Homo sapiens: one gene and its partners. The protein of the gene in region 1 interacts with the protein of each later gene in a pairwise test. Each region holds a gene or a part of one and is shown on either strand. Other genes may lie near its edges. The genes, in order: FOXP4, SOX5 and SATB1.

Region 1 (3,753 bases):
CCTCAGTTTCCTCTTCTATAAAATGGAGATAATACAAATATCTCCCTCCTGGGGTTACTGTGAAGATTAAATGGCTGGTGGGTGGTACGACTCAGATGTTAGCTGTTATTTTATTCTTATGGCTATGGTTATCTCAGTTGCCACACTGGAAAGGACACTGAGATATCCACATAAATGGCACTTAGAGTCTTCCCTGCACAATTTCACACCTAGAAATCTAAAACGCTCCAGCAGGACCTAAGTATGCCTGTCCCACCTGCCCAAAAAGGCAAATACATAAAATGTGGACCTGTGCAGGTGTCACTAACATTGCAGAAAAGGGACAGAAGTGATGAAAAACAACCCAAGAGGGTGCCTCCTCTCTGAGGTCCCCTTTTCTTTCAAGGACCACTGGAACGGCCAAGAAATCCCCTCCCCCCAGGCAACTAAGCATCAATCCTTGCAGCTCCGACCCCACACCTCAGGCTTCCAGCTCCCACTCCACAGGGGCTCACATACTATGCCAGCCTCTTGTCCACCTGCCTGAGGATTTAGGGCCAGGAGAGGCTTCAAGAGCCACTGTCTTCTTGTCCTGATCCCACAACAGGATCCTCCCTTGGTCATGGGGACCCGGCATCACTGAGCTGGGTTGGGGTACTTCATGAGGACCCCTGAGGCCTCCTTCACTTCTCCCCACCCCCAACACATGCAGACAGATGGGAGATGTTTCCGGCGTGTGTGGGGCGGGGAGGGGGACGGGTATTGAGATTTCCACGGGACTCTGAGTGGTGCGTCTGCTAACAACACAGCCCTCCCCCTTGGGCCGTGGGCATTTCCTCACCCAGACCTCCCCCTCCCAACCCAAACACACCATCGCCGCCACCACCACAATCCCTCCAGTCCCCCTGGGCAAAAGCGATGTTCAGAGACGCGGGGTTTTGTTTACAATCTAATTTGTCCGGATAATTGCCTCAACTTTGCACTTCACTTTGCCCGCATGGCTCTGGCCTTGGGCCCCTTCTTCACTGGTTCGCAGAGCACTTTACGGGAAATTCCCTTTCCGCAGAGGGAGGCAGTGCGCGCCAGGGGGTGACCGTTCACAAAGCCCTGAAGGGGCCTCCCCACCTTCTACCCTCGGCTCAGGAAGCCCACCCCCAGCCCCCACGCAGTGGGGAGCAGGAGGGAGGCCAGACAGGGCCCGGGCCTGACACTGGCTCCGTCTCTGGGCCCCCGGCCACTCCCCGCGCCGAGCGCAGCCCGCCGGGAACCAGTGAACCGTGTGGGATCAGGACTTGGCCGTACCTTCAGACTCCAGGGGATGGCCGGGGTTTGCAAGCGCCCCATAGGATTAGTCCGAGGCCAGGGTGAATCCCTGGGGTCCCTCCACCTACCATCTTTTTCAGATCTGCCGCCTCACGTCTTCTCCCCACGTTCCCATTTTTCCTCCCCTAAAGTTTGGTGCACGTGGTTTTCTCTCGCTCTCAGCGGGCTGCCAGGCGGGGTGAAAGTTGCTGCACCTGCTTTAGGCGAATTATGGTAGCACTAGAAGTTGGTCTCCCCTCCCTCCGCCGCTTGCTCTCTCGCTCCCTCCTCCCTCGCTCTCCGCGCGCTCCCTCCTTCCCTCTCCACCCTCCTCCTCCCCCGCCCCCTCCCGCCCCGCCCGCGCGCCGCCCGCTCGCAGCCACTCGCAGCCCAGGCTCAGTCGCAGCCCCTCGGAGTCCGGAGCCCGCCGTCCCTGCGGACCGGACAGTGCGGCCGGCGGCCGGCGGCCGGGACGGAGCCCCCAGCCCGCGAGGAGGGCGCGGCGCAGGCGGCGGCGGCGCGGCGGGGAGGAGCCCGGGCCGGAACCAGGGCTGGGCCGGGGGCGGGGACGCCGGGGTCCGGGAGCCCGGGAGCCGGAGCGAGCTGACGAGCGTCGCGGAAGGACCGGGAAGGAAGAGCGGAGCCGGAGCGAGCCAAGCAGCCCACAAAGTGCCATGCCCCGGCGGGGTTGAGGCGCGCGGCGGTCGGCCCGGCGCGCTGGGAGGACGCCCGGGAGCTGCGCGACGCGGGGCGGCGCGGAAGGGCAGCCCCGGCGGGCGGCGGCGGGCCCGGGCTGCGACCGGAGCGAGCCCCATGCCCCGCGCGGGCTGACGGGCCGGAGCCCGCACGGAGCGGCCGGGCGGGACAGGTAGGTGGCGGGTCGGGCCCAGGGACGTGGGTGGGGGCTGGGCGGGCGACCAGACCAACTCCCTCGCTCGCGCACTCTCTCGCCCGCTCGCTGGCTCACTTTGTGTTTGCAAACTGCCCGCCCGAGACGCGCTGGGCGCCGGGCGCCAGGAGGAGCCGGGCCCGGGCCGGCGCACTTTGTTCCAGCCAGGGCCGGCCGTGGCGCACTGACCCCGCGCAGCCGCGACATTCCGCCCCTGGCCCGGGCCCCAGCGGGCCGGAGCTGCCTCGGGAACAGGTGGGGGCTGTGGCGCGGCGGGAGTGGGGGCAGCCGGAGGCCGGGGCGGGGAGGGGGGCGGCCGGAGAGGCCACCGAGGCCCGCCCTTCCCCAAGAATCTGGGCCCCGCCCCCTCCCCGCCGGGCCTCTGGGAATGGGGTGTACGGGGGCGCGACCCCCTCCCCGCCCCGAGTCAGACAAAGAATACTTCCCGGCCCAGACTTTCCAGAGCTGGGAAGGGAAGTGGCTCCCCCCAACTCTAGTCGGTACCGGACTCCCCAGGACGCGCCGGAGACAGATGAAAATGGGGGCAAGAGAGCGGGGGATCGCGGTCCTACCCGCCGTGTCGTCTCTGGTGAAGAGGGGACTTGTCTTGCTGAGGTCGCACCTCGGAAGTGCCAGGGCCAGTCAGCCCCTTTTCCATCGCTCGGTCAGCTCGGGGATAGAGCGGAAAACTTCTTGGGGACTTGAGAGCGTCTGGAAATGGCCCCTGTGATTTGTGCGCCGGAGGTGGAGGGTGGGGAAACGATCTGGCTGACACCTCTACTCACCCGCTGTGGAGAGAGCTCCCGCTTCACCACTTAAGGGGGGAAGAGAGGGCGGCCACGGGGGCCCGGAGGCCACCAGGGAAGGAGCCCGGAGTGACCGAGCAGGACCCCCCCCCGCCCCAACTGAGGAGTCTGGTATCTCCCCTGGACAACCCCAGCACCTCTCTGACCGGCGGCGCTTCAGCCTCGGGCTCCTCATCCACGCCAAACAAACTTCCTTGGGCTGCGTCAGAGCACAGCCAGTGGCGCTAGAATGCGACCTGGGGTCCCGGCCGCCCCCATAAAGGACCGGGTAATTTCGCGGAATGCGGATTTTGAGACAGGCCCAGACGGCGGCGGATTCCCTGTGTCCCCCAACTGGGGCGATCTCGTGAACACACCTGCGTCCCACCCCGATCCTAGGTTGGGGGGAAAGGGTATGGGAACCCTGAGCCCAGAGCGCGCCCCGCTCTTTCCTTTGCTCCCCGGCTTCCCTGGCCAGCCCCCTCCCGGCTGGTTTCCTCGCTCACTCGGCGCCTGGCGTTTCGGGCGTCTGGAGATCACCGCGTGTCTGGCACCCCAACGTCTAGTCTCCCCGCAGGTTGACCGCGGCGCCTGGAGCCGGGAATAGGGGTGGGGAGTCCGGAGAACCAAACCCGAGCCTGAAGTTGCCATTCGGGTGACTCCCGAGAAAGCCCGGGAGCATTTTGGCCAATGCGGGTTTTTACCTGAACTTCAGCATCTTCACCCCGGTTTCGGAGACCTGCCTAGATTCGTCCCAGCACGCACTGTTTCGGGTTCGGGATTGAGGGTTAGGGCAGC
Region 2 (3,753 bases), on another chromosome or scaffold:
AGTTACATTCCTCTAGTTTCTTAAGGAGTCTACAGTCACATGTTTAAGATGAGAAAAATAATAATTTCCTTTGAATTTTCCCCCTAATATTTAAAGTTATCCAAAGAGTCCCATGGACAGTCACATTTCAATCAGTAAGATTCACAGATGATAAAACACAATTCAAGAGTTAACAACGATAGCTTTGGAAGCTGCATTCACTCCTCCAGCCTTATGTGACCCCTTAGAATGGCTTCAGCAGATTAAATTGCTTCCAAGATACTTGAGTTTAGGCAAAGAGAAAATAAGGAGAACCAGTAGAACTCTGACAGTAGGTTTTCACTGGGTATTATCACAAAATAAGTAGATGTATTTTGATAGTATCCAAAACTTTAAAAATACTTTGGGGACTTGTAGAGACTGTATTATCAACAAAAGCACTGCTTTTCTTTTCTTGCTTTGTATTCATTCCTCATCTTTTCTTTATTTTTAAATTTGGAGACACAGGAATCAAACAAAATTGCCCAAACTTGAAGACCTCTATAGCAGCACATTCAAAACATAGCATACCTGTTGGTGAAGTTTCTCAATATTTTTCATTAATAACATGCTCTTTGATTTAATGAAAAGTAGAAAATATTTCACATACAAGCATGATTGAATTTAGGTAATGACAGCAACAAAAACTTTGATGTGTTAATGCTGATTACTGTGGGTATATTTTATCATGCTAATACAACTTAAAATTTATGAAATGTGTTATTACCCGTAATTGTCTTTTATTGACAAAATAAGTGCAAATATATGGCAACATCTTCCTAAAATGGGTTTGTAACTAGCAAGTGATCATTTGCACATCTGCCTTTTCTTGTTCTTACACCTTACAGCAACATAAGCAATAAAATGAACATTATGTGTCTTCATCAAATCTAAACAAGCTCTTTAAATGTACATAGGCTAGGTTTATCTTAGCTAAGTGGAGCTGAAAATAGAAGAAAATGTTTGCAACATTAGACCCAGAAAAATGCAAATTGAATCCAATTGAGTAAAATTCAGTTTTGATAGAATTACGTGTTTCAACGTTCAGGTTTGTTTAGTCCCTTGATTAGTATAGACCTGGTCTTAAAAGTAGAATTGGCCCAAGGCACAGAGTAAACAGTTGTGTATATTGGAGGATTCAAGGGGACCCCCTCTCAAAGTATGCATCTCACTGGTTTGCCTTTGTGCACTCTTCTCTATATGCAGGGAACTTCCCTGTAGTAGTAACAAAGTTGAGGGCGGTACTGCCAAAGGAATGCTTAAAATGCATGGATGCCACCTGACAGTAGAGAGATGTTCCCGGTCAGGGTATTGTATAAGAAGAACAGCACTTCCTTCTTTTTCCCTCTTTGCTACGCTATTAAAAATCAGAGTATCAATTTAATTTCTTCTCACTGTGGATGTTTAGAATGTTCAGAGATGATACAGAAAACAGAAGTCTGAAGGCCTATGAGAAGGGAGCATAAAGCTGTGCAGCTGGTTTCTAGTTAGGTTATAGAGAGTGGGCCCGACACTTGACTATGTAGTACATAGCACTAGGGAGAAGGGTTCCAAAATGTAAGAAACTATCGTGGAAATGTCCTCTGAGCCATGTATTCTGGTGAGGGCTTGACAAATAGAAACTTAAAAAATGAGCCAATAGAAACAAATTTCTGAAAAAGTTCATTTTGGGTACAAGAAATAGGGAAGTGAGGCCGCATGCAGTAACTCACGCCTATAAAACTAGCACTTTGGGAGGCTGAGGTGGGAGGATCACTTGAGCCCAGGAGTTTGAGACCAGCCTGGACACCATAGTAAGTAAGTCCTCATCTCAAAAAAAAAAAACAAAATTGCTGGGCATGTTGGCATGCACCTATAATCCCAGCTACTTGGGAGGCTAAAGTGGGAGGATCACTTGAGCCTGGGAAGCTAAGCATTTTGAGCATTTGCTTTAGAATCATGCCATCTCGAATTTAATTCTTGCCTCTGACACTTAGAGCCCTGTGACCTGGGGAAAATGCTTCAAAACTCCTGAGGCTCAGGCTCTTTCTCTGCAATGGGACTTATCCTAGGTTGACTAGGAATTAAATGAGACGATTTCTGCAAAGCACTCAGCAGAGTGCTTGGCACATGGGGACTGCTCAGTATATGTGACCTCTTATTGTAATGATGAGGTATGAGGTGGCTGTCTAGTCTATTTTTTAGCAGTTTTAATTGGCACTACCTAGACACTTTCTTGCATTATTAGAATATGTATGAACAATTTTCACAAACCATCAGAATCTCCACTCAGATTGAAATCCATCATTGCATGGCTAAATTTTCCTTCTTCATTCTGTTTAACTGCCAGTTGCTGAGTCAGACTCTCCAGTGTTGTTTTTTCCTTTAAAAAAATTATAATGAGAGATCAGTCTAGGAATTAAAATTATTTGAAGACTTTCTTTTTTTGGGCCACATATATAATACATTAACTCCTGGAAAGGATGCAATGTTGATATATTCACCTTTTTACGTTCAGCACATTAACCTGAAGTCATTAAGGGGATGATCAGCACGATTTTTGAAGGAACTCTGATTCTCATAGACCCCTATAAAGTCTTGGCGTTTGGGTTTGGTATGCCTAAGGGATATATGCCGGGATCCTTGGAGACAACCTTCCCAAATTACAAAATGTGCACAGAAATTTCATGGAAGCAACCTGTTTTACATTTGGAATGTCTGCTTTATTTTTGGCCAGACAGTAGAAGTATAGGAGTGGCGTGAAGCCCAGAGAAAGTCTTCCAATAGTCAGGTGACCAAATAATAGAAACATAATTCACAGTAGTGCCCTCTGGTTGCCATCTTCCCAAATGCCATCTGCATTCCTCATGCAAGGGTAATGAAGACGTTTAAATATTCATTGCTAATTGCTTGTCAAGTCTCTGTACATCCAATGTGAGTGCCTGCTACTTGGACCACAATTTGATTTGGATTGCTAAGCCAAAATATTGAGTTGGCGAATTATTTGAGATACAAATATACCAAAATTAGATCTACAGAGACATCAAGTTGTTTAAGCATGCAGTGCACGATTCACATTCATGGAGAACATAGCATTTCAAAATAAATTATTTTTAAGAAAAATATAATGCTTAATCTAAACCATATGAGACATTACTGTCAAATTAAGAAACTGGGTGACTTTAGGAACAGAAAAAGCATATAATGAAACTTGATAACTTTCTCGTGAACTCTCCAGCACTGCTCTGAGGATGATGTAGTACCAAACAGCACCAAAACAGTTTTAAGAAATGCATCCATTGGATCTCATAACATTATCTCAAGTTTCTTTATAATTATTCACCTCATTTTCTGAGGAACATAGTCATGAATCATACTAGTGAACGACATACACTGCAGAACTGCTATTGACACAATAAAATGTTCACAGAAAGTAATCAATGATGTAAGATAATTGTATTACAGGTAAAGGGCCCAACTAATGTTCCCACCAAGAACTAATGAGATATTGAAATTCTTAACACAGTACATGCTTTATCTCAATGAAGTCTCTGACAATGTGACAACTGTACATACTAAATTAAAAAATCTCTTAAGTCAGTGGCCTTGGAACTCCTGTACTCTATTCATCAAATTATGTACATTATTTAATAGAAAACTATTTTTAAATTGTCAATCAGTATAAAATACAGTAGAGAAACTGGAGACAAAATAGTTTATATTAACTTTAGTTCTATAGAATTAAATAGTATTAAA
Region 3 (3,753 bases), on another chromosome or scaffold:
TGCAAACTGGCGATTCCTTCCTTGGCTTGAAGGTATTCTGGCAAAATCGCCTAAACAAATAAAACCATTCAATCCCTTTTTCTTAGTAGTGTTTTCTCATCTCAGCCATAATTTTCATTTAGCACCTATCAGACAGAAACCATGCACATGAAAAATAAGATGAAAATGTTAATAAAAACCCACAAAAAGACTTTAGTAATTTTGTTATTTGGAGTATCTGAGACCCTCCTACAATTAAACTGCATTTTTAGAATACATCCAAAACAAAACAAAACAAAACCAAAAAGCATTTGAGCAGGAAGTGAATTTACTGTACTTTTAGTTTTCCTCCTCCTGTCCTGATATCTTCAAAGAGTTGGGTAAGTACAACAAAAATGTACACATTCATTTTTCCTTTTGTAGGATGAATCAGATGTATTCTACAATATGCTTTTCCTTAGATCTATGAAATAACTGCAGGGTTTTCAAACTATTGAAATATATTGGATTTATTGTGGATTTTATTGATCATGTTTAGAGGTACCCTAAAATAATAAAGACGGCTATAAAGTGACAATAGTACTATCTAATTACAGACCTTCTAGCAAACTGTTGCGGTTACCCTCCCGTTTCTGGGAGTAATGCTGAACACAAGCCTTTTCTGAACTGTATGATTATTCGTGCTAGTGTTTGGCGAGAGTTCCAACTACAGCAACTTCATAACCTTCCAGCATTTAAAGGGGAGAGCACTGGTCACTGCTGAATGCTAAAAATACCACATGATTTAAACCTGAAGGCAGTCTTAGAAGCTTTTGCTGAAGGTTTATGAGCCTGTGTAAACAGCACGTCTGCCATAAGGAGCAGTGAAGTCTGTAGAATCCTTGTCTAAAACTGTCCTGGCATTAAAGTTTGCTGTGCAAATATCACATAATACCAGAGACAGCTGAAATCTCCTATTTAGGAATTTATGGAACTTACATGTTTGCAGGCGTCAGAAAGTCTTTTTTATACAGCCCCAGTGCTTCACAGTACAATATTAATGCACTCTGTTTGAAAAGCCGTAATAAATTATATTTTTAATGCTCTTACCCTGGCTTTCTTAAGATGCATACATTCTTGGCAAACAATCAATAAATAGGGTAATCATGAGTAGAGGCCAAAGAATTTGCTGAAGTGCTGTTTTCCCATTTTTAATAGATAAAGATCTAACAATACGGACTGCTGTGTCTGTTCATTTCAGGATCAATATATTCTTTGTTTTCGCCAAACCAAGGAAAAAATAAATGATTGTATGATAAATGTTACGCATCAAACACAATGAAATTCCTCTGCCTTCTAACTTTATCTACTTAATATTCTTGGTTGCTAAAATATAGCATTTTTATCCATTGCTTAGCAAATGTAAGGAAAATCTGATTCCTATACATGTTATTCAGACACAAAATGAAGCTCCTTATGAGGCACATGCATTACACCCAGGGTAGGCACTGCTTTACAGGAACAACACTGTTAAACACAGTCCAAGTTGTTAAACTGCATCAATTTAATATTGGTAGAAAAAAGTCACACAGTTACACATCTTCCCCTTATAAACTTGCCTAAATCTGTTCTTTCTTCATCAAAAATACCCAATTAAAACAAAAATAAAAAACTAGAATCATCAGATTTTTTACTGCTAATGAATTTGCTCTTAAGAAAATAAGCCACAAAAAATAACATTACCAAACTTCTACATAAGATGTCCAAGATCTCTGAAACTGCCCTACAACTAAGAATCTTAGGAAGAAGCTAGGGTAACTCTCAAATCACCTAAGTGTTTTATTCTTAATCAGGTTAGTTTGAAGAAACAGCTGCCTACAATCCTCGACTACAACACCTTTTGAATGGACCCTGCCAAAACTAAAACCATTATATTTAATTCAGTCCTTATTACCCAAAATGTTCCATGATTCCAGTCTACAGTAGAACGCTCCACCCAAGCATGGAGGCTATACTTTCCAACGTGATTGATACTAAGGACCCAGAATGTAACTAATGTACGATCATAAGGAGAATAAAGGCAGAGTATACAAAACATGTTCTGCCACTCCACCCCCACACAGTGTGGCCTTGTGTAGACAACAGGGCTTTCAGCTTTTCAAGATTTGGCTTGAAGGTATTTACCTTTCCTAAGGTTGGTTTTCATCAGATGGCCCGAGTGTTTTAAAGGCACTCCCTGCATTTTTGCACCTGTACTCCCAAGCCTTCCTCTTCCTAGCGGGCTCCCGTTCTGCTCCAGGCGGGCAATCTTGGCTGGTGGACCCTTCGGATCACTCACATTGTTAGACATTTCTGAATGTTCTTTCCCCTGAGTTGCCTCGTTCAAATGATCCATACTCAGTCACTGTCTAAAGATCACCTGCCAGAATTTAAAAAGAAGACACGTTATAGTTGGGCGGGGACCTACGTGTATATATGTGTCCTATGTAAATGTTTTAGCTCTAGATATCTCTCCACAAATATAATGTATTTGTAAAATGGCCTATCTAGATATGATACAGATGTTACTATATTTCTAGATGATAGCATTACATTCTTATTCAAATTAACAAAATGATCTGTGGAAACTGTACCAATACACATGAATAAAAAGATAACTGGCCTATAAAAAAACTAAGTGGGGAAAAATGGGCTTACTTTTAGAACAAGAATTATTACAAGTATAGCTAAAAAGAAAACAGCAAATTGCATTTACGTAGTCCCAATTTTTAACAATTAGAAACACATTACAAAATACAGCAGAAACACTTTAATAAAGGATGGAAAGATGATCATAGTTCAAAATATTAGAAATCTAATGTATATGTTTTATATGTATACATTTTATATGTGTATGTATATTAATTCTTATGAAAAAAACATAAACCATCTCAAAAGAAGGTAACAAACATCTAACTGCTTTTTAAACTCCCCATTGGCTTTTGTAAATTAATGCATAGAAAAAGTTTTCTACTATCAAAGTTCCAAGAGTTATGTGACAGACCTAGTCAAGTTTTGGGCCAAAGATGTGATTGGATCAGTTTACCCCTAAAGAAACAGGAAGAAGTGAAGGGTTTTCAAATATCCAACGTACTGATGCATTAAAACTCATGTGTTTTAGAGTCAGTATTTAGGTGTCCATTAGTAATAGAGGGCTGTTAACAATAAATATTTTTAAAAAATTGAATACACTTCGTGATATGCACATTAGGTTGAAGTGCCAAGCTCAATTAAAAAAAAAAAAAACACAAACAAAAAACCTTGATGATACTGGTAAAACAAAATATCCAGTATTCAGAAATAACCTCAGCATGCAATGGCATTAACATTGTAATTAACTTCAAAAAAATTAACAGATAATTATTTTCAGTTATATATTAGACATCAATTTTCCCATCATTTATAGTAAAGTGATTAGACAATATCAAAGTCATTTTTAAAGTATAGTTTTAATTAGAATTGATAAGAACAGGTAAGTAGAATTATTTTATGAACTTTGATGGTATTTGAAGTATTGAGCTTATGAAACTAAGGGGATCATATTTAGGAAAACCAGAGAGAATAATTACCATTTTTCCTAGCTGTCTAGTAATTTGATATAGCTTGTTTTTGTTGTAAATTCTTACACTGGAGCTATTTAAATCTGGATTTGTTGAAAGCCAGTTTGTATTAGCATGGCTTTTCTGTAAATATTTTTTCTTCTGTTTAACCATAGCCTACTTCTTACCATATAATCAAGAAAAGGGGGGCAGCAAT

The links.
Region 2: the proteins of FOXP4 (region 1) and SOX5 come close enough for resonance energy transfer, tested with the Homo sapiens proteins (one study listed by BioGRID).
Region 3: the proteins of FOXP4 (region 1) and SATB1 come close enough for resonance energy transfer, tested with the Homo sapiens proteins (one study listed by BioGRID).

What each region holds. Positions count from the first base shown.
Region 1 is NC_000006.12:41,544,719-41,548,471, forward strand, and holds the start of FOXP4 (forkhead box protein P4), read left to right. Parts: upstream 1-1,662; 5' UTR 1,663-2,149; intron 2,150-2,742; exon of another isoform or gene 2,743-2,827; intron 2,828-3,659; exon of another isoform or gene 3,660-3,753. UniProt on the Homo sapiens protein: Transcriptional repressor that represses lung-specific expression.
Region 2 is NC_000012.12:23,544,045-23,547,797, forward strand, and holds part of SOX5 (transcription factor SOX-5), read right to left. Parts: intron 2,381-3,753; coding exon 2,272-2,380; intron 1-2,271.
Region 3 is NC_000003.12:18,418,615-18,422,367, forward strand, and holds part of SATB1 (DNA-binding protein SATB1), read right to left. Parts: intron 2,378-3,753; 5' UTR 2,354-2,377; coding exon 2,143-2,353; intron 1-2,142. UniProt on the Homo sapiens protein: Crucial silencing factor contributing to the initiation of X inactivation mediated by Xist RNA that occurs during embryogenesis and in lymphoma.